Linked DNA regions of Homo sapiens. The protein of the gene in region 7 purifies or fractionates together with the protein of the main gene of each other region. This does not show direct contact. Each region holds a gene or a part of one and is shown on either strand. Other genes may lie near its edges.

Evidence for each region.
Region 1: the proteins of TFAP4 (region 7) and MTCL3 purify together in Homo sapiens (affinity purification with mass spectrometry, with the first as the bait; one large-scale study listed by BioGRID). This does not show direct contact.
Region 2: the proteins of TFAP4 (region 7) and EHMT1 purify together in Homo sapiens (affinity purification with mass spectrometry, with the first as the bait; one large-scale study listed by BioGRID). This does not show direct contact.
Region 3: the proteins of TFAP4 (region 7) and NR2F6 purify together in Homo sapiens (affinity purification with mass spectrometry, with the first as the bait; one large-scale study listed by BioGRID). This does not show direct contact.
Region 4: the proteins of TFAP4 (region 7) and SP3 purify together in Homo sapiens (affinity purification with mass spectrometry, with the first as the bait; one large-scale study listed by BioGRID). This does not show direct contact.
Region 5: the proteins of TFAP4 (region 7) and UBN2 purify together in Homo sapiens (affinity purification with mass spectrometry; 2 studies listed by BioGRID and IntAct, with this or other methods). This does not show direct contact.
Region 6: the proteins of TFAP4 (region 7) and TRIB2 purify together in Homo sapiens (affinity purification with mass spectrometry; 2 studies listed by BioGRID and IntAct, with this or other methods). This does not show direct contact.

What each region holds. Positions count from the first base shown.
Region 1 is NC_000006.12:127,477,836-127,481,335, reverse strand, and holds part of MTCL3 (microtubule cross-linking factor 3 precursor), read left to right. Parts: intron 1-3,500.
Region 2 is NC_000009.12:137,834,316-137,836,627, forward strand, and holds the end of EHMT1 (histone-lysine N-methyltransferase EHMT1), read left to right. Parts: intron 1-33; coding exon 34-209; intron 210-457; coding exon 458-638; 3' UTR 639-1,812; downstream 1,813-2,312. UniProt on the Homo sapiens protein: Histone methyltransferase that specifically mono- and dimethylates 'Lys-9' of histone H3 (H3K9me1 and H3K9me2, respectively) in euchromatin.
Region 3 is NC_000019.10:17,243,120-17,247,115, forward strand, and holds the start of NR2F6 (nuclear receptor subfamily 2 group F member 6), read right to left. Parts: upstream 2,801-3,996; 5' UTR 2,102-2,800; coding exon 1,824-2,101; intron 1-1,823. UniProt on the Homo sapiens protein: Transcription factor predominantly involved in transcriptional repression.
Region 4 is NC_000002.12:173,909,874-173,913,373, reverse strand, and holds part of SP3 (transcription factor Sp3), read left to right. Parts: intron 1-107; coding exon 108-304; intron 305-3,116; coding exon 3,117-3,433; 3' UTR 3,434-3,500. UniProt on the Homo sapiens protein: Transcriptional factor that can act as an activator or repressor depending on isoform and/or post-translational modifications. Binds to GT and GC boxes promoter elements. Competes with SP1 for the GC-box promoters.
Region 5 is NC_000007.14:139,304,237-139,306,486, forward strand, and holds part of UBN2 (ubinuclein-2), read left to right. Parts: 3' UTR 1-2,250.
Region 6 is NC_000002.12:12,719,936-12,723,435, forward strand, and holds part of TRIB2 (tribbles homolog 2), read left to right. Parts: intron 1-3,324; coding exon 3,325-3,500.
Region 7 is NC_000016.10:4,266,524-4,270,023, reverse strand, and holds part of TFAP4 (transcription factor AP-4), read left to right. Parts: intron 1-1,819; exon of another isoform or gene 1,820-1,976; intron 1,977-3,093; exon of another isoform or gene 3,094-3,500.

The DNA.
Region 1 (3,500 bases), on a different chromosome or scaffold from region 7:
ACTCTGTCTTTGCTGTCACTTTATCCAACTCACTCTAAATATTTTGTTGTGAATCATTTCACGTGTTGCCATGAATCTTCTTTCCTACCTTGTTTATGGAGTAGACGCTGTATCTACATTTGTCCTATTCTTACACTTCCTGTGTTAAAAGTTTATTTATTCTTTTCAACCATAGTCTCTGATGCAGGAATTCTTAACTGTTTAGTCTTGGCTTTATGGACCTCCACTCACTATGCATGTGGGCAACTTTCTGCAAAAACATCCACAACTTTAATCAGTTTCTCAGTGAGGTCAGGGACCTTAAAAAAGTCAAGATGCTATGCAATCTACCAGCTTTTATTTCATGGACAAAAACTTCCTTTTTTATAAGTATACTGTAGCATTTGAAGTTTCTGCTATCATTTCCAACACATTTATTTTCAGAGGTTATGACCTGTCACTTTTAAAAAACCCACCTCAGGAGACTGATCAGGCTATCTCTGATGGGATATCTCAATTATAAAATGGTCAATTTTTACAAAATTATAACACGATTCCAATGCTCAGTCAAGGTTGCAAACCATCGATCCACATATTTGTATTACTGAAAATATACCATTCTATTGTAATTCTTGTTTATGCATTCATCTCTCCTACTTAGCCAGGGCATTTTTGTGGACAGGAGCCATCTTATTCAGCTTTGAATCATCTGTGTCTAGTGATTGGCACTCTGCACATGTTCAATACATGCTTTTAAATACTCCCATGTCTCCTTTTTCTATGCGAAATCACACAAAATTGCCAACATGCTATTGAATTTGATCTACAGAAGTGGCAATTTCATATGGTCCAACTCTCTATTATTCATTTAGCTTTGTATTTCATTTTGTTAATTTGCTTCAGCTTCTTTGATCTCTTTCTCACATGTTCCTCCAGCAGCACAGTGACTTTATTTACAGAGAAATGATACTGCACAGCAATTAAGAACTGTAGCTCTAGGGCCAGGCTGCCTAGGTTGAAATCTCTGGCATATACCAGCTGTATGAACTTGGGCCCATTACTTATTCTTTTTAGTGCCTCTATTTCTTCATATATAAAATGGGAATCATAATAGAGAGTTGTTGTACAAACTAAATGAGTTAATATATGTAATCGATTAGAATGCAATTTAGTTTCTAGTAGTGGCTCTTAAAGTGAAAGCCAGGAGTAGCTCATTTCTTACTGGCCTTCATCATCATCATATCTTTATGTTCCCCTCTTCACATGTAATTTGTATCTTCAATTGAGTGAGTCTTTAACATACACAAAAATAAGAAATAACTTGCTTCACACCTCAGAGCATTTTAATTTTTCTTGCCTACCTTTCACTGTGGAAAATAGGAGAAAGTATTTACTGCTCAATTACTGTGGACCAGGCACTTTGCATACAATCTCCTTTTTTTATCAATAATTATGTATGATATTTCTATGCCAAGTTTCCAATGCAGCCTACAATAGTTGGGTTACAAGATCAGGATGCAAGGCATATTGGCATACAGGGTGGTAAACTCTTGGCATTGCAGAAACTAGCACATTTTGTATCTTGAAAATATTTATTTTTAAATAAATAAAATAATTACCATGACCATTAGCCCTTGATGCAGCTCTTTCCCTCCTAATGACTCTATTATATTCAGTCTATGTCCAAGTGTTAAAATAATTGTTGTTTTCATTCCTTTGGGCAGGAGCGCTTACATACACACAAATCAGATATTCTCTTTTTTATTTGCTTAATATAACCCAGTGAAGTGTTATTCTGCTTCAGTGTGTGCCTTGTATCACACCCACTGCTGTTTTGGTTAGATTCAATTTGCAGTATATGCCAACTATACTAGCAAATAAAGGCCTTGCCTTGCAATCAAGGACTTCCACCACATATGCAACCCTACCTGGCTTCCCAGTCTCATCTACTCTTGCATGTCAAATAAAACCTAGCCTATGTAAAAGCATATTTGACATTTATTTGTGCTGATAAAATGCGTTCCAGTAAAAAAGCCAGCTAAAACTCACCAAAACCAAGATGGCAACGAGAGTGACCTCTGGTCGTCTTCACTGCTACAATCCCACCAGTGCCATGACAGCTTACAAATGCCATGACAACATCAGGAAGTTACCCTACATGGTCTAAAATGGGGAGGCATGAATAATCCACCCCTTGTTTAGCATATCATTTTTGGTCATGTTTCTGTTCAAACATTGTTTCTAATTATTGGCCTACATGACCTTAGATTTCCCCTCCCAAACCTTTGACTATTTCTTACCTGTCTCCCCCTTTCTCTTTTTTTTTTTTTTTTTTTTTTTTAGATGGAGTCTCTCTCTGTCACCCAGGCTGGAGTGCAGTGGCGCAATCTCGGCTTACTGCAACCTCTGCCTCCGGGGTTCAAGCAATTCTCCTCCCTCAGCCTCCCGAGCAGCTGGGACTACAGGCGCATGCCACCATGCCCAGCTAATTTTTGTATTTTTAATAGAGATGGGGTTTCACCCTATTAGCCAGGCTGGTTTCGAGCTCCTGACCTTGTGATCCACCCACCTCAGCCTCCCAAAGTGCTAGGATTACAGGCATGAGTGACCGCGCCTGGCCATATGTCTCCCTTTCTTTTCTTCTCCTCATTGGTTGTGTCTGTGACCATTATGATAGGTTCAACCATCACCTCTACACATCTCATCCACACGTCCTCACTTCTAGACCTGAGCTCTAAGTGCCAAGCTGTAATCTTAGTAATCTAATCATGAGCCTGAGATTCTACATGACTGTTGATGGATGTTTCCACCCTGTATCCCTCCACTGGAACACCTCACAGACAGCATTCTTAAAACCTTAAACCCACATTCTTCACCCAAAACCATTTCCATTTCTCCTTTTGTACTTTTCAATTTAGTTAATGACTGGGCTTTGAGGTTGTCATGAGAATGTCGTGAGAATGTTTGAGAAGAACTTCTGTAAGTTTCATTCCACTGTCCTTTCAGCAGGCAGAACCAACTTTATCCATTTTAGATTGATGGGAGTACATCCTATTTTGAAAGCGATCTAAATGGAATGCTCCTCTTTATTCATTCTCTATCCTTGCTATTGGCCATACAATCCAATGAGACCCCTCAACTCAAAAATTCAGGGTCATCTTTGATTCCTCTGCTGATGTGATCCAAAACATTGTAACATGTCCTTGGTCTCATCCTCAAAAAATCTTCCATCAAAGCTTTCCATGACATGCCCTCTTCTCCTCTCTGGATGCTGCTAAGGCTCTCTCATCTCTTCTGGTAGTCCTTCTCTTCTTTCTTCTAAACCTCTCCTAGAGGAAAGTGTACAAGGCAACACATCTTACTTCTTTGATTTTACCACATTGCTCTATTTTTTTTTCTTTTATGCTTCTTTTCTAGAGGCAGCATGTGCAGTGGAAGGAATATGAGTTTGGGACTCAGCCAGAATATAGACTGTGCTCTGTCACTTATTAACTTGTGCACTGCAATGTTAATAAATCTCC
Region 2 (2,312 bases), on a different chromosome or scaffold from region 7:
AACTGCAGCCCGTGCCGGCTTCTCGCCCTGCAGGACGGGGAGGTTTACTGCATCGACGCGCGGTTCTACGGGAACGTCAGCCGGTTCATCAACCACCACTGCGAGCCCAACCTGGTGCCCGTGCGCGTGTTCATGGCCCACCAGGACCTGCGGTTCCCCCGGATCGCCTTCTTCAGCACCCGCCTGATCGAGGCCGGCGAGCAGCTCGGGTACGCACCGCCCCGGCCCCTGGCCATCTCCGCTGCCGGCGGGACGGTTTTAGGAACGGGGCTCGCATTGCTTTCCTGGGCTTGTCTCGGGTTTATGCTAGTGGTTTTCCTGTAGTTCTAAAAACTGCGACCTGGGATGCGGCACGGCAGATCGGGGTGAGGAAGCTTTGGCCTTGCCTTAATTTATCTGGCTTGTGGGAGGTGCCGGTGGGATTCGACTTGGAGCCTTGGTTCTGTTCCCTCCCCAGGTTTGACTATGGAGAGCGCTTCTGGGACATCAAAGGCAAGCTCTTCAGCTGCCGCTGCGGCTCCCCCAAGTGCCGGCACTCGAGCGCGGCCCTGGCCCAGCGTCAGGCCAGCGCGGCCCAGGAGGCCCAGGAGGACGGCTTGCCCGACACCAGCTCCGCGGCTGCCGCCGACCCCCTATGAGACGCCGCCGGCCAGCGGGGCGCTCGGGAGCCAGGGACCGCCGCGTCGCCGATTAGAGGACGAGGAGGAGAGATTCCGCACGCAACCGAAAGGGTCCTTCGGGGCTGCGCCGCCGGCTTCCTGGAGGGGTCGGAGGTGAGGCTGCAGCCCCTGCGGGCGGGTGTGGATGCCTCCCAGCCACCTTCCCAGACCTGCGGCCTCACCGCGGGCCCAGTGCCCAGGCTGGAGCGCACACTTTGGTCCGCGCGCCAGAGACGCTGGGAGTCCGCACTGGCATCACCTTCTGAGTTTCTGATGCTGATTTGTCGTTGCGAAGTTTCTCGTTTCTTCCTCTGACCTCCGAGGTCCCCGCTGCACCACGGGGTTGCTCTGTTCTCCTGTCCGGCCCAGACTCTTCTGTGTGGCGCCGCCGAAGCCACCGTTAGCGCGAGCTGCTCCGTTCGCCCTGCCCACGGCCTGCGTGGCTGGGGCCGAGTCCCAGGGGCCGCACGGAGGGCACAGTCTCCTGTCAGGCTCGGAGAGGTCAGGAGACCGACCCCACCACTAACTTTGGAGAAAATGTGGGTTTGCTTTTTAAAGGAATCCTATATCTAGTCCTATATATCAAACCTCTAACTGACGTTTCTTTTCGAGGAAGTGGCTTGGTGGGTGCAGCCCCCGCCGGTTCCGTTGACGCTGGCACCTTCTGTTGATTTTTTAAGCCACATGCTATGATGAATAAACTGATTTATTTTCTACCATTACTGAACATTAGGACAAACACAAAATAAAAAACAAAACACAGACAACGGTGCTGATTCTGGTGTGGTTTCTACTCACCACGTGAAATAAACTATCAACTGTATAAAGAGAACAAAGTGATTTTAGAATAAAATGCAGGAAAAACTTTTTTAAAGATGTTAGTCTTGTAGCGTGAATAAATTTGCCATCACCTTTTGTGTGGTGGCCTGGCAGGTCATATACTTTTTTTTGGCATATACCTTTTTAAAGACTGTAATTAGTGCAGTAACAGTGGGGTTTTTTTTGTGCAACTCTTCTAAAAACATTCATAATGCAGTCATGTTTATTTTTTTCTGTTAAAATGTTTTTGACAGTTTTAAGAGCAGTCTTTTGGCTCTGACCATTTCTTGTTCTGTTTCCAATGAAATCAATAAAAAAAAAGAAGTACTTTAAATGGGGTTTTTATTATGACACCATATTTCAGGGTCTCTGCAGAACTTGCAGGTCCCCCTGGACCCGGCCCAGCTCTCTGTCCCCTGTCCAAGGAAGTACAGCTTCCTTTTCACCCCAGATCTGTCCCCGAAGAGGGGACGTTCCAGGCAGAGGTTAGGGGAGCCTGTGCATTTGCGCACGTGTCGAATGAGTCTGTGTGTGTCCACGAATGCATCGTGCACGTGGTGCGAATGCGGGCACACTGGTGTGTGTGTGTGTGTGTGTGTGTTTGCATGTCTGTGTCTAGCGCCAGGTGCCCAGCTCTGGGCGTCATTCTGGAAGCCGACAGGGCACATCAGGTGAGTCCCACAACCAGAGGCAGAGCTGCACTTGAACAGCGAGGCCGGACAAGGGAGAGCCAGAGCCCGTCCTACTTCCTGCCAGCCATGACCCCCACTCCTCTACGGGGACCCCTAGACCCAAAGCCTCCAGCCTGCTATGTTCTCCATGCTGACTGGCCTC
Region 3 (3,996 bases), on a different chromosome or scaffold from region 7:
TCCCTGTGGCCTTTCTTCCACCTGCCAACTCCATGCTTCAAGGCTCATGTCCCCTAGCCTCCTCCAGGCAGCCCTCTCTGACCTCCAGGCAGAGCCTCTGCTCTCTCCCTGGGACCCCAGATCCCACAGACTTGGGGCATCTGTCTCACTGTGTCTCCTCCAGACTGGGGGCTTCTCAGGAGCTAGACTTGGAGCTGGGGTCTCTCTGGAGGGGCTGGCATCAAACTACCCAGGCTGGGCCCCAGCGAGACCCTGCTCAATCCATTTGAAGCTCAGAATGGAATGGTGATTTCACCAGGTCACACAACTGACACAGCACAAACCTGTCAGCTCCAAGCAAGGCCCCCCCCACCCAAAATTGCTGCTCCCTGACACCACCCTCAGGAAGCTCCTGGGACCCCAAAACTGCCTGAGCCCCCCTCCCTTACCCTCCCTAAAGATATGACCAGAGAGCAGGCGGTTTTCCAGCAGCAAGAATGAGGCCAAAGTCTAGTGGCCCACTTTGTGCTGGAGGAGGGAGCAAGGCAGCTCTGCCACACATGGCCACACCAGGCCAGCCCTGACCCGGGACCTGGGGCCAAACTCCACCCTCGGGTACCTGGGGCCCTATTTGGTGGCCTCAGCCAACAAGCCTTCCATCAGCCGTTCTCCCTGGGGCCACTCCGATCCGAACTCAGCGGTCCCCACCCTAGCCCCACAGTTCCCCCACAGTGCCCCCAACTCGGGCAGCGTCCCTCCATGTCCAACGCAAAGCAGGCACCAGGACCTCTCTCTGGGCCTTTGGGCCTCTGTTTTGGGCAGCTGGGAACTGAGACCGTCTAGACGGGCTCCACAGAGACCCTGCATGTTCCTGGGGTGCAGAGTAGGGGCTTATAAACGGACAGATCGGATGCTCGCCCGGGAACGGTGAGAAAAGAACTCCCGGGCTGGACAACCCCGATCGCTTTCCCTGGGGACCTTCCGCCAGAACAGCTAGCAAGGCCACGCCCTGCCAGAGAGGTCTCCGACCTGGGACAGCCCAAGGCTCCTGCTCGGAAACGTTTCACTCCCTGCCCGTCTCAGAGACACCCAAAGTTTGAGGGATTTTTCCAGGAGCCCCAGGTCTGCACCCACCCCTGGGGGAGAGGGACGTTTCAGTCAATTCCGGTGGCCCTGCCGGCCTTCCAGTGGCGATTTCCGGTGACCCAAGGCCCAGAGTGAGCCCAGAGGGGTTCCCTGAGATGGGCAAGCCCAGCTCCCACCCCCACCCCCACCGCTGGGCCCCTCATGCGAAGAAGGCCGCCCCGTGCCACCCCAGCCTCCCTCCGTCTGCCGCCTCCGTAGCCACAGCGACTTTGGAAGTGATATTTGACCCCAAGGGCGCGCCGTATCGATCCGCGCGGCCGCAGACAATGGCCCCTGGACGCTGCGAGCTCCACGGTCCAAGTTCCACGTTCGATTCCCTCGAGGGCATCCCGCGCGCCGGGATCCCCGAGAACGGGTGCCCTGGGGTTGGGTTACCACCCCTGACAGCACCCCTACCCCCACCCCAGCGCGGAGATGACCCCTCCCCAGAGAAAAAGCGGAGGGAAGGAGAAGCAAGTAACTGGGGCAAAAGCCTCCAGGGACCACCTGATGGGGGGGGAACCTGCAACGATGTAGCGCCGACTGTATACACAATCCCAGCCATGGAATGCGGGAGGAGGGTGCTGTGCCCCTATCTCAGAGGGGGCAGTGGAGGCCCAGGGAAGGTCAGCGCCAGGCCCAAGGTGACCGAGCAGGTCAGAGGCCTGCCCCAGGTCGGGGCGGGGTGCACGGCGGCGGCGCGCGGATGGGGGGCTCACCGGCAGGTGTAGCTGAGGTTGCGGCGGATGCTTCGCTTGAAAAAGCTCTTGCAGCCCTCGCAGGTGAAGACACCGTAATGCTTGCCGCTCGACTTGTCCCCGCACACCACGCAGTCCACCTGCAGCCCCGGCCGCTCCTCGTCGCCCGGCTCGGCGTCGCTGGCGGCACCGGGGGGCGAGGCCGAGTCGTCCTCGGCCGCGCGCGGGTAGCCGCCCGCCTTGTCCACGCCGTTCGTGTCGCCGCCGGGGCCGCCCCAGCCGCCGGTCACCATGGCCATAGCCCCAGGGCAGCGGGGCCGGGGCGCCCCCACCGCGCTCTTCCCTCCGGGCACCCCTCTCGGCCCGGGGGACCCTACGCGGCGCGCATTCGGCCCCGGCGCGCGGGGGGCACGGGCTGCACCCCCCAAAAAAGTTTTGCAGCAACTTCCTGCGGCCGGTCCTCGCGCCCGGGCGGAACTGGTCGGGCCGGTTCCAGGCCAACTTTCCCACGCGTGCGCGGGGCCGGGCCCGGGGCCGGGAGGGGCACGCTAGAGGCGCGGGCCGGGGGCCCAGAGGACTCGCGTCCCGCCGCCCTGGGGCCCCGGCGGGGGCGCGCGGGCCATGGCCCGGCCCGAGCCGCGCAGGGGGCGTCCTCTGGCCTGGCCGCCGCTCGCCCGGGGGCTGCGGCCAACTCAGCGGGCCGCCATCCGAGCGCGGGAGGCCGGGGGGAAAGTTTGGCCGCAAGTTGCGCGGCCGCCCGTGGCGGGGGGGGAGGGGCGGCGGGTGCGCGCCGGGGCTGATCGCCGCGCCCCCTGGGTCCCCCGGCGCCCGCGGCTGCCGCTCCGGGCCTGCAGGGCCGCTGGGCCGGCGCCTCTGGAGCTGCCGCCCCCGCTGCGGCCGCTCCTGCCTGGCCTGGGCCTGCGCCTGGGCCCAAGCCTCGCTCTCGCCGCCGCCACCGCCACCGACCCCGCGCGCCGGCCTCGCGCTGCGGCCGGTTTGACACACAGCGTTCCATTCGCGGGGCGGGCGGGGGGCGGGGGCGGGGGCAGGGGCGCGCGCCGCGGGCTGGGGGCGGGCGCTCGTTGCCCCGGCGACGGCCGCCCTTATAAGGGCATGGGTGGCCGCGCGCGGCGCCGGGCGAACGGGCCGGCGGGAGGGACGGGGGCCGAGCGCTGGGCCGCGGGGCCTGACCCTCCCCCGCCTCCCTCTGCCCCTCCCCCCGCACCCCCGCCCTCGCCCTCGCCCAGCTCGGGCCTTAACCCCTGCCGGGCCGCGGCGGGAGCCTCAGCCGCGCCTGCCCTCTGCCCTTCCTTGAGCCTCGCCAAGATGTCTCTCCAAGGCCCTCCCCTCCACCTCTGGCCTTGGACGTTGGGTCGCTCGATCACCCTCGAGGCGCCCCTCGGAACCTCTCCCCACCCCACAGTTCCTGGCAAAGCAATGATGGGGGGCCAGTGGCACCCGGGGGGGGGGTACGCCCCTGCGCAAGACACACGCGCGCGCGAGACAGACAGACACACACACACACACACACACACACACACACACACACACCCTAGATTGTGTTTGCTTCCTCTTCCAGAAAGTCGCCGCGTCTGACCCCCACCCCACCCTTTCTCTGCTCGGGTTAACACCTGGTGCCCGGAATCTCCAGGGGGAAGGGATGTTGTGGTCTGAGACCGGCTGGCCGGGGCCGCGAGGTCAGGGGGCCCCTCTGCAGAATTTCTGGCCTCCGGGGGCAGGGCGCCCACCCGCCCCGCGCGGCTGGAGGCGACAGGCATGCCCTGTCTGGGGGCCTGCCCCTTTTTCCCTTTTAATTTCCTTTTCTTTCTGTGCTTTGCAGAAAGGGCTTGGCCTGGCGGCCGGCTGGACTGCAGATGTCTCTTCCAGGCGCCCTGGAGCCTCGCAGCTGCCGCCACCTCCAACTCACCCCATCCCCCAGTACCGGGGCTGGGGCCCGCCCGACCAGCATTTATTAAGCACCCTTTGTATGCGAGGCCCGGGCTGGCGAGCCTCTGGCTCTGGGCAGGTTAACCTTTAACCGGCTGGACAAGCCCTTCCAGGAGTGACCTTTCACCTCGGAGTCTTGCAGCCCCAGCCACCCAGACTGTGGTCCCACCCCGCCCTGAGCCCAGAGCTGGACACCAGAGCATGCAGCTGGGCCTCTGAGAGCTCTGGCCAGGACAGTGCCTTCTGC
Region 4 (3,500 bases), on a different chromosome or scaffold from region 7:
GATAATGTCTTCTATTTAAAATTCAACATGGGGATATATGATGTAAATGGTAATGTCCATTTGAATATTTTCATATAAGTATATATTATTCTATGTGTGTTTTTTAGAGGTACCAATCTTGGGAAAAAGAAGCAACACATTTGTCATATACCAGGATGTGGTAAAGTCTATGGGAAGACCTCACATCTGAGAGCTCATCTGCGTTGGCATTCTGGAGAACGCCCTTTTGTTTGTAACTGGATGTACTGTGGTAAAAGATTTACTCGAAGTGATGAATTACAGAGGCACAGAAGAACACATACAGGTTACTAATACTTACTTTTAACAGACAAAAATGAATTATAGGGCTACATAACTGCCTTGACTTCTTTTTTATTAGCATTCCTTACTGAACTGAATCGATTTAAAATACAATGAATTACATCCAATTTTTACCTTTAGTAACACCATCTTAATAACACAAATTCCAAAGAACAAGTCAGTCTGGCTTATCTTCTAAAATAAAGTTATATTTAAGTAGACTTTGGGTGGCTTTTGTTGACATTATTGAATGCTTTAAACCACATTTATACTATTTTTATTCTGTTAACATTTTTAATTAGTTGTCAGCTTTTACTCTTGATCTATCCTATTTTTTTTCTTTCCTCTTAACACTGTAACAAAAAATACTCCTGTTTCTTCTGACATATTTGGGCATTTCACCTTTTCTTTTGTTTTTAGTATCTCTGAGGTAAGGGAAAGGTATTTCACTGAGGAATAACCAAGGCAATGTTGATGTGAAGACTTTCTCTGATTATATTATTTTTACATAGTGTTGTGTGGTTGTTAAATGAAATGGACCTGTGACTGATCTACACTGAAACCTAACAGTGTTAACTTAGAGATAGTTTTTTCCTACTACCATGTAAATGATTAAAGTGTTCATCAGTCTATGCTCAACACTGGAGAATTGAAAACTATGTATTTACAATCCCTAGAGAGCTTGGAAGAAGCATGGTAAAATGGAGAACAACATGGATTTTGAAGTCATCTGGATTCCAATCCAAGTTCCCTATTAGGTTAAGCGAATAAACTATCTCTGACGTTGCTTCACATATCCTACTTTGGCCTTCAGTATTGTATAAAATTACCTATGAAGTCTGTAGTAGTATACAGATGCTCTAATAGTTTTAGTTCCTGTCTCTCATTGGGTAGGTAGACAGATGAGATTAACCTACATGAAACTGCAACAGACAATTAAGAAAGTAGATAAGGCTGCAGGGCGTGCTGGCCCATGCCTGTAATCCCGGCACTTTGGGAGGCCAAGGAAGGCAGATTGCTTGAGCCTCAGGAGTTTGAGACCAGCCTGGGCAACATGGTGAAACCGTGTCTCTCCTAGAAAGACAAAGAATAGCCGGGCGGATGGTGTGTACCTGTAGTCCCAGCTGCTCAGGAGGCTGAGGTGGGAGGATTGCTTGAGCCCATGGGGCGGCGGTTGCAGTGAGCCAAGGTCATGCCACTGTACTGCAGCCTGGGTGACAAAGTGAGATCCTGTCTCAAAAAAAAAAAAAAAAAAAAAAAGGTAGATAAAAGATTTTGCGTTGCAGTCTGCTGTTGAAAAGGCTCAGAAACAGAGATAATTACTGCTTGGGATAGTAAAGTATGGGATAATAGATCTTATGATGGCCCTGTTAACAGAATTTTCCTCAGTAGGATTTTATCAGCAGGTTGTAAAAAGGAATAATGTAAAAGGGAGAAAAAGGTCAATGATCAAATAAGTGTAGGAAATAGTGGGCCAAAGAGGGTATAAGTACCTTCAAGGCAGTACCTCTTAGGACCTTTAAATTAAATGCTAGATTGACAGCTTGCATCTATAAGTTAGTGATGTAATGTGTGTGTAGCATTTCCTAACCTTGTGCCGTTTGCCATGGAGTACCTCTCAGGACTAATGTTACAAGAGAAACTGGGAAATACTTTAGTAGAAAAATGGTGGTATGTTAATAGAAGAAGTGAGAGACCTTTTTTTGTAGCGGTGAATGAGGATGAGATTTTACATAACATTTCTGTTAAGTAGGATTGAGGCACACTTTAAAGGTCCTTGTAAATTAGGCAGTGGAGCATCTAAACTGTTACGTCATCTGCAAGTTACCCTTGCATTTCCATATCACTTAATATAATCTTGAAGTTTTCTGATGTAATAAAATTTGGTCTTTAAGGAAGATAGTCTGGAGAGAGAGAGAGACTAGGATGTGACTGCAGTATAGTTCAAGCATGAGGTCTGATAAAGACCTATGTAGAGTAGAGGTGCTAGAACAAAGGATACAAGCTAAGACATTTTTGAAGAAAGGAATTAAGAAAATATTTACTAGATTTATTGATTGATTTTTATTGATTTCTCTCTGAATTCCTTTTAGGTTGGCCTTTTGTCTTCTCTTTTGGTAATCTTGCAGAGTCGGTCTTCAACATAATAGAAGTTCAGTCTGTCTTTTGTATTTAAACTTACTTTATTCATGCTGGGAAATAAATTTAGGCATCAGGATTTTAACAGCTTTAACATCTTAACATATTAGGCTTGTTCTTGATTGTTGTAGCTGAAGTCAAGTCAGCTAGCCAGATTCATTTTTCTAAGGATTACTCATTCTTTTTGGATCTCAAGCTTGTGGTGTCATTTCTTTAATCTAGAAGTACCCTGTTGCTTTAATTCATATTTAAGAGTTGAAGGTTTAGTATCATGAACATGGCATGTTAGTATTTTAATTATAGCGTGAAAGAATATACTTTTATTTAGACTTTAAAGTGTGTTATAGATGCTTATTTTTTAGCTGGCATCTTAACACAGGTATTTCAAACAAACTCTTAGCGTAGTTGAGATATTAAAGTCTTATTTGAATATCCATCTATTATATAATACATGTTTGAAGACTGCTAGTCATCAAAAAGTAAAGATGAAAGATTTAAGGAGAAATATTCTGTAAGAGAAATCTGGCAGGGGTAGCTCGTAAAATGAATACAATTTTAATAGACCCCTGCTCCCATCCTCACCTGTCAGCGTTGACTTACTTTCTGTTTTGGGGGAGATGATTGAGCTATTAAAGTTGAATTTTTAAAACCAAGTAACTTAATTTTTTTCTTAACAGGTGAGAAGAAATTTGTTTGTCCAGAATGTTCAAAACGCTTTATGAGAAGTGACCACCTTGCCAAACATATTAAAACACACCAGAATAAAAAAGGTATTCACTCTAGCAGTACAGTGCTGGCATCTGTGGAAGCTGCGCGAGATGATACTTTGATTACTGCAGGAGGAACAACGCTTATCCTTGCAAATATTCAACAAGGTTCTGTTTCAGGGATAGGAACTGTTAATACTTCCGCCACCAGCAATCAAGATATCCTTACCAACACTGAAATACCTTTACAGCTTGTCACAGTTTCTGGAAATGAGACAATGGAGTAAATATTACACAAATACTTATTCATTGTGGTTATTTTTATACAGTAGTGAGAAGAATATTGTTCCTAAG
Region 5 (2,250 bases), on a different chromosome or scaffold from region 7:
CCATGAAAGAGGTGGAGCCATCAGCTGCTCAGGTTGTAAGAAAATGGGAGACGGAAGGCAGGATTCACTTTCTAACTGGGTCGGGGTGGGGAAGGTCAGGGTAGAAGGAAACATGTTTTCCCCAGCTCCCAGGAGGAGACGAAGATCATTTTATCCCACCTTCCATCCCTGTATATTAAGTAGTACTACTACATAGAATTTTCCCGTTATCGTTTAAAATAATAGCAACAGGAAAAGAAAAATGGATGCTGCAGTTTTAGTTGGGGCTAAATGCTGAGCAACGATTGTTGGAGTGTGTGTGTAAATTTAAATTGTAGCACATATTCAGGGTCAGGAAAGCAAAATGTTGGGGATGAGGAACCAGTGTTACCAGGTTCAAGTGAGTTAGTAGAAAGCACCAGGTCCAAGCAGACAAAGCATCTGGTTAATTTCCAGAATTGGCTAAGGTCCACTGAATCTCTAATGATAGGGTGTGTGTGTGTGTGTGTGTGTGTGTGTGTGTGTCTGTAAGTCACTTTTTGGATTTTTGTTGCTTTTTCCAGATAAGGCCTTAGTAGCCTCTAAATATCAACTATGCAGATAAACATACTCCTTTTTTTTTTCACATGTCCCTGTCTTTTCCATTCTCAGATAACAAATGTTAAGACCCAAAGAAATAAGGCATAAGGGTTTTTGTTGAATGTGTGTTTGTTCTTCTAGGGAAAATTAACAGAAGCATAAAATAGAGATACTTTGTGTGTTCATCTATCGTAAAATGTGAACTCTGTATTCAAAAACTATCTACAGATGCTTTCACTGGTGCAAAGCTGTAGTTAGTATCATGGAATGTCTTTGGGTTGTTAATGATAAAATCATCCCAGTGTTCAATTCTGAGAGTTTTAGATTATATGACACAATGTTCAGGTTTATAGAGCTGAATGGGTGATCAAACTCTAATTAAAAATAGCTTTGAATATTAATGTTGAATTCTTCTTTCTTGGTTTCCTTTAGTCTTCATTCTTTATTCAGAGCTCTTAATCATATTGCTACACTAGAATATGAATTGTATATTAGGAGTCTGGGGAGGAAAGGTTAAATTGTCTTTTACATCCTCTTCTCACTCACTCTGGCAACCTATCCTGTGTCCCCATAGAACTGAGAAGTAAAGCCCTGTGCAGGCCTGCTTTAGAAGACTTTACATCCCAGCAGAGGATTCAGGCAGGGACTCTCAGGATTTTAATCAGACTGCCTTTGAATAATGTGATATTAAATTTTATTTTTCTCATAGACTCTCAAAGTACCACTTGCTTGAAAGTAGCTACTTGTGATCTTTAATTTCCTTATATTGTGATAGTTCTACTTTTCAGTCTTTCCTGTGTATCTCCATTTCATAGTGCGTTAGTACTTAAACTTCGGACACTTTTCCAAACTGTTAAACAAGTCAGGAATGCTTTTCAGAATCGCAGTAGTATTATTAGGGTCTCTGTGTCTAGGACTTACAGTCATCAGTGGTCATCACTGGGACTAGAGGTGTTCTTTTTTTTCCTCTTCTCCTTTGTATTAAAAAATAGATTTTGCTACTGTATAATGCGGCATTTCATGACTTCCTCTTGTTACTTTTCAAGGTTATTCTAAAGAGATGGAGATCTTCATTAGAGGCTATTTCTCATAATAGTCTGCCTTGCTTATTTTCATACTCCCCCTGAAATAAGCCTACTTTTGCAAACAGGCCATATGAATCAAATTTTATGTTTGTTCCTCACAAAATTTTCTACACATTATTTGTTCCCACTTTGCTAATAATAATATAATGATTTTATTGTAAATCTGTGTTTTAAATATTTTATAACAGAGCACTAATGGAAACCTAATAAATACAAACAAGATAACTATTACCCAAGATAACATGGAAATACTTCTGTTTTTGAAGTTAACAACACCGTCTGCCCTCAAAGCACATTTAGGAGTATCAACCAAGACCAGCCAGTTGACATGTTTTTCTGTGTGGCAACCTGCCCTTAAATTGTCAGATCTTAACTATCTTGTGTTTGCTGTGCTTGCAGCCATAAGCTTTCCTCCTTTTTTGCTTATCCCTGCTGTTTGTAGGGTTAGTGTGCCCTCTGTCAGAAAATTGGGTTTTCTTTACTATACCTGCAAAATTACCAAGGGTTACCCCAATATTGTCTAGAGGAATTAAAAAGAACTTATTCTCAGTTGACAAAAGTATTACTGTTATACATAGTTAATTGGAAAGTTGGCCAACTTTGGTCA
Region 6 (3,500 bases), on a different chromosome or scaffold from region 7:
TCTCAGAAGTCTGCAAGGTTGCACAATAGGATAGTCATCCTTTGAAATGAATGAATTCCACAGAACTGCCACTCTTGTATGAAATATGCACAATCACCCAGCAGTGAATATTTTCATTCCTTTTGCTCAACTTCAGTACAGCATTTTAATATTTTTCAAAGGCTGGAGATGCTTTTAAGTATAGGGACTCTGCAGCCAAATTCTGCAGGGGCATCTGGCTGTTACTTCTTTGTTTAAAATCAGAGGTGACTCTGGCCTCTGCTCATTCTTTCTCCAGATTTTGCAAGACATATTTCACTTTGGGCTGACCTTACAGTGTCATTTGCAGACTTGTGCTCTGGCCTCAAATTGGACTTAATCTGCTGGTTTAGTTATTGCAAAGATTGAATCAGCCCCTCACCAATTACAGTGTGGCTGCAAGTGGATTTAAGTGCAGTATCATTGTTCTGCTTGACAGAGGTCATCCCTTTAAGACACAGCAGCTTCTGTTTTCCTGACTTTTTACCATAGATGATGTGGGTGACTTCTTATGCAAGCATAGTTGTGTATCTCCGAAGAAGCTCCAAGAGAGTTTTATAAGGCTGCTTCTCTGAACTGCCCTGAGAGATATATATGCTGTGGTCTCTTAGCTTACTTTAAGGCTCAGTGAAATCTACACATTGAATCTAGTTCCTTTTGATGTCTTAGAATAGAAGGCTCATGTTTCCTAGCTGTGTGTTGACCAATGAAAAAATTCTTTGCAAAAACAGATCAAATGTAAAGATGCTATTTATTATAGGGGACTGCGTAGAGAATTCCATAGGACACTATTTGGAGGAATAGAGATTCCAGAGTCATTTAAACAAAATAATCAAGGCTGCTTATTGTCTCCATGTACCTACTTTTGCTAGATGAATGAAGGCACTTTAAGGAGTCTTTAACTGTATGTTTTCATGGAGATACTGGTAGCTACTGTGCAGATTGACATAATTACTATCTTGGCAGAATGGGTACTTTTTTTTTGCAAATGTTATTAATGATGGCCTAATCTTACTGCCTTATCTGAACTGTCACATTACATAACCAAGGCTCCAAATTAAACATGTAAAGAAGCTGGCACCAGGCTTGTGGCTTGATTTTGCACGTGAAGATGATGGTTTAAATACCAGTCCAAGCCCCTAAATGCCCCTGATAGCTACTAATAAAAGTTTGGCTCCTTCTCGTGTGGGAAAACATAAGTACTTATTTTATTTTTCATACTCTGTCCACCATCTTGGAATTTGGTCTCTTCTACAAAAGGTATGGCTACATTTGAAGCTGCCACAAATATGTTAGTTTTTTAAAAATTCTGTCTCCAGTTTTTCAGCAGTGGAGCAGGATAATAGGCTAAAAGTGCTGAGCAAAAGTCACCTTTTATGTTTTTGTAAATGCACCTGGAAACAGGAAGTAGATTATAAATAATCATAACTCTGTGAGCACTGGCGACAGAAGCTGCAACCTGGTATTTCAGAACACAGCATCTTCATTATATGATGCAGTGTTTACGTTAGCCACTGCAAAGCTTATTACTCCTCGAAATTTTTGAGGCTTCCCTGGGTTTCTGTTGCCTGCATTCAGGGTGTTAAAGTTGATTCAAGCATTTCAGATTCCTAATTGAACAGGCCTCTTAGGTCACTGCTCTTGGGTCATCATTTGACAGTATCAGTGTGTGATTTGTGGTCTCTGGAGATGTTGAAGTATTCTTTCTTAAATTCTAGGTTATAGTGGCAGCAGCTGTGCCGCTTTTCTGAGATGCCTCGTTATGGTTCATTCACAACATTACTGTTAACTTTGCTTCCTTGGCCGTGTTAGCAGCAACTCTTGAGGTTTTACATCCCTGTTTGACTCACAGATTTTGTTTCAATTTTTTGAAGCTTAGAGCAACTTAACTCATGGATTCTTAAATAGCAGTCTGTGGCTTTGGATGGGCTTCAGAAAGCCCGTGAATCCCCTTAAAATGAATCCGGTATCGTGCATGCATTTGAGAACGGGCATTGTCAGCTAAGAGGGAACAGAGCTTTTATCAGATTTTATGTGACATCAGGACCCAAAAAAGGTTAACACTGTTCTAAATCAACATCTTCATTTTATGAAGAGGAGGGAGGTCCAGTAACCCTAAGCTCTTTATCCATCTCATCCAGATTATTGGTGGCAGGGCCAGGATTAGTGCCTCAAGGTTGCCGACTTCCAGTCCAGCATATTTCCTACCACACTGCAAAATGATGATGAAAGAAAGTATGTCTAACTAGTGAAAAAGCGATTTAGGCAGCTAAATCATTGTGAACTGATAGCATGCAGTGTATTGTTAGGGCGTTCCTGCCTCAGATGCTTTCCAGCGAAGCTCACCCACGCATGCCCCTGGCTCACGCACACACTGAATAGATTCATCTTACCCACATCCCAGGCAGATAGAAAAACCACATTCCAGACCCAGGGACTTGTATTCCTGATTTAGTGGAGGTCTTGAAATGAATGAAAGCGCCTTTTATATAACCTCAAAAATTCTCTGTAGTGTTAATTGCTGTTAGGTCTGTTTCAAAAGGTATTGATGGTGCCTTTTCTTTTTAAGCAACCGCACAATGAGTTGGCATTTTGCAGGCTAATTTTGATTCATAGAAAATCATTGCATAACTGGTTCATTGAGTTAGATATCTGTGGAGGGAAGAGAGGAAGAAGCAAGGCTGCTTCCCTATTCAGAAGGATTCTATCATATTCCTACCTCTGCCACTGGGGGCTTGAGTTTTGGCTCATTCTCTGAGCCTCAGTTTCCATATCTGTAAAATGAAAGTATTGAATTAGAGACCACTGGGCAAAAGCTAGCTGTTTATTCTCTTAGTTGCTCATGTGTTGTATAATGCCTGTTTATGTGCATTTCTTTTTTTTTATTTTTGAAGGCAAATAAAGTGTTGTTGATGTCATTGAGGTGGATCACTTTCTCTCCAATTTTGCCTTAGTTCTATAAACACGCAATTGGGCTAGAGACAAAAGTAATGAAAATTATTATTTCTGTACTGCATTACGTTTTGCAAAGCACTATCACCTTCATTTTCTCATATAATCCTCCTAACACTGTGAGTCAAGTATCAGTTTCCCATGTTGTACGTAAAGATTTGGAGGCTCCGAGAGGTTAAGTGACTTGTTTAGTGCCACACAGCTGGTAGGAGGCAGGGCCAATGTGGTCTGGGTCCAAGTTCAGCATATTTTCTGTCATCTCAAAAGCCCATACCTGTGGGAGGTGCAGCATTATGTGTTTTGGTTGTACAAGAGGCACCTCTGACTTTGGTCTTACTGTTAATCCTGTCGTAGGTGTTTGATATCAGCTGCTACCAGGAATCCCTGGCACCGTGCTTTTGCCTGTCTGCTCATAGTAACATCAACCAAATCACTGAAATTATCCTGGGTGAGACCAAAGCCTATGTGTTCTTTGAGCGAAGCTATGGGGACATGCATTCCTTCGTCCGCACCTGCAAGAAGCTGAGAGA
Region 7 (3,500 bases):
TAGTAGAGATGGGGTTTCACCATAGTGGTTGGCCAGGCTGGTCTCGAACCCCTGACCTCAGGTGATCTGCCCACCTTGGCCTCCCAAAGTACTAGGATTACAGGCATGAGCAACTGCGCCCAGCCACTGAGTCTTAAAAGCAGGTATATGGGCAGGTATATGGTAGTCTCCATCCATATCTTGTGTTTTGTTTGTTTGTTTGTTTGTTTGTTTTGAGATGGACTCTCACTCTGTCGCACAGGCTGGAGTGCAGTGGCGCAATCTCGGCTCACTGCAACTTCTGCCTCCGGGGTTCAAGCAATTTTCCTGCCTCAGCCTCCTAAGTAACTGGGACTACAGGCCCGCTCCACCATGGCCGGCTAATTTTTGTATTTTTAGTACAGACGGGGTTTCACCATTTTGGCCAGGATGGTCTCGATCTCCTGATCTTATGATCTGCCCGCCTCGTCCTCCCAAAGTGCTGTGATTTCAGACGTGAGCCACCGTGCCCGGACTCTCCATCTGTATCTTTTTTTTTTTTTTTTTTTTTTTGAGGCAGAGTCTCGCTCTGTCGCCCAGGCTGGAGTGCAGTGGTGCAATCTCGGCTCACTGCAAGCTCGGCCTCCCGGGTTCACGCCATTCTCCTGCCTCAGCCTCCCGAGTAGCTGGGACTACAGGCGCCCACCACCACGCCCGGCTAATTTTTTGTATTTTAATTAGAGACAGGCTTTCACTGTGTTAGCCAGGATGGTCTCGATCTCCTGACCTCGTGATCTGCCCACCTCGGCCTCCCAAAGTGTTGGGATTACAGGCGTGAGCCACCGCGCCTGGCCTCTGTCTGTATCATAAAGCTCCTAGGCCTGGCTCGGTGGCTCAAGCCTGTAATCCCAGTGCTTTGGAAGGCCAAGGGGAAAAAATCATTTGAGCCCAGGAGTTCGAGACCAGCCTGGGCAACATAGCAAGACCCCACCTCTACAAAAAATAAAAAAATTAGCCCGGCATGGTGGCATGTGCCTGTAGTCTCAGCTCCTTGGGAGGCTGAGGCAGGAGGATGGCTTGAGCCTGGGAATTGGAGATTGCAGTGAGCTATGATCATAGCACTGCACTCTAGCCTGGGTAACAGAGACCCTGTCTCTTAAAAAAAACAGTAAGACTGGGTGCAGTGGCTCACTCTTGTAACCCTAGCACTTTGGGAGACCAAGGCGGGAGGATCACTTGAGCCCAGGAGTTCGAGACCAGCCTCAGCAACATGACGAAACCCTGTTTCTACTAAAAATACAAAAAACTAGCCGGGTGTGAATGGTGTGCACTTATACTCCCAGTTGCTTGGGAGGCTGAGGAAGGAGGACGACCTGGGCCCAAGAAGTTGAGGCTACAGTAAGCCGAGATCATGCCATTGCACTCCAGCTTGGGTGACGGGAGTGAGACCCTGCCTCTAAATAAATAAATAAAAATAAATTAAAAAAATAATAAAACTTAAAAAGCTCCCATAAGAAGGAGTTCAAGAAAATTGAAGGCTTTGGAGTGTTTATTGGGTCCCTGATTTATTTATGAAGCAACAACATTCTGCCGGGACTGAGGATACAGCCATGAACAGGATGTGACTCCTGTCCTCAGCAGCTCACAGCCTTGTGGTCTTAAAAGGTCTTGTAGACCCCCTAAGAGTTTCATGGGTTGTCCTGGACACCTGGGTGCAAACTAACTCTTGGGCCTCGACCTCCCGAGTAGCTGGGATTACAGGCACGTCCCACGACACCCGGCTAATTTTTGTATTTTTAGTAGAGAGGGGGTTTCACCATCTTGGCCTGGCTGGTCTGAAACTTCTGACCTCAGGTGATCTGCCCACCTTAGCCTCCCAAAGTGCTGGGATTACAGGCATGAGCCACCGTGCCTGGCCTTTCTTGATCTCTTTTAAACTTCACCATGACCCTGTGAAGTGAAGCAGTGTTTCCATATTTTACAGACGGAGGAAACCGAGGCTTGGTGTTGCACAGCTAGTAAGTGGCAAGGCTGGACTTTTTCACTTGAGCCCAGTGCAGGGTTCCCACTGATGGGCTGGAGGAGCTTTGGGGAAGGGAGGGAGGCAGGGATGTTTCTGATGGCAACAGCCTGGGCATGGTGTGTTCTGGGACCGAGGGGAAGGGCAGCAGACTGGCCAGGTCAGAGTACAGAGTATGGGTGAGTAGTGTAGAAGCAGCGGGGATGGAGCATGGATGAGAACCTCGGGCTGATTAGGTTAGAGAAGGATGAGTGCCTTAGTGCTTTTTTGGGTTTGGGAGAATCCCGTGTGGACTTTCCCACGTTGACTGTGTAGATGTTAAGTGACCCTGAGGTATGTGAGTGACTTCAGGGCAGTGTGAAATGAAAGTTCTCAGTGGCCGGTTTGAGGCTGGAGCTGGGCAGGCAGGTGTAGAGGGATTGGGGGTACTTGACTTTGGCCTGGGCAGGAGGGATAGGTACCTGGCAGGGTTCTAGACTTGAAGGGCATGCCCCATGCCTCCAAGTGTCTGGTTGGGACGCCAGCGTCAGTCTCAGCAGATTCTGTGGGTGCTGTGGTGGTAGGTGTGGCGGCTCTTGCCTTAGCATCCAAGGCTGGTGCCCAAATTTTGTTCCTTGGCCATTGGCTGCTCAGTGACCTTATTCCTAAATCTAGGGCAGCCCCTGTTTGGACCCAGGAGGCTGGCTTGCAAGAAGCAAGAGAGCCTTGGTGTGGCTGGGCATGGTGGCTCATGCCTATAATCCCAGCACTTTGGGAGGCCGAGGCGGATGGATCATTTGAGGTCAACAGTTCGAGACCAGCCTGACCAACATGGTGAAACCCCATCTCTACTAAAAATACAAAAATTAGCCGGGCGTGGTGGTGGGTCCCTGTAATCCCAGCTACTCGGGAGGCTGAGGCATGAGAATTGCTTGAACTCGGGAGGTAGAAATTGCAGTGAGCTGAGATTGTGCTACTGCACTCTAGCCTGGGCAACAGAGCGAGACTCCATCTCAACCCCCCCTCCGCCCCCCATAATTAGCCAGGCTTGGTGGATCACGCCTGTAATCCCAGTTATTTGGGAGGCTGAGGCATGAAAATCGCTTGAACCCGGGAGGTAGAGATTGCAGTGAGCCAAGATTGTGCCACTGCACTCCAGCCTGGGCAATAGAGCGAGACTCAGTCAAAAGAAAAAAGAGAACCTCGGTGTTGGTGGACTTGGGTCACCTTTGATTTTCACCTGGAGGAGTCTGAAGTGGCCAGAGAGAGGATAGTGGACCTTTACTGTGTGTGTAGGACGTTTACAGACCTTAACCGTAAATGCAAAACCCCAGAAAGAGCTATCAGAAACTTTCAGGCATTTGCAGAAAAATCCACTTTATTCAGTGCAGTATCACCTGGAAATTTCAATCAACCATCCTTCATCAACAGGAACCCCTGGTTGGTCAGCCATCAGAAGCCCTGGTTGGTCAGCATTCCACCAATAAGAATTCCTGGTTAGCGGCACTCCACCAATCACAACCCCTGGTTAGCTCCTATTCCA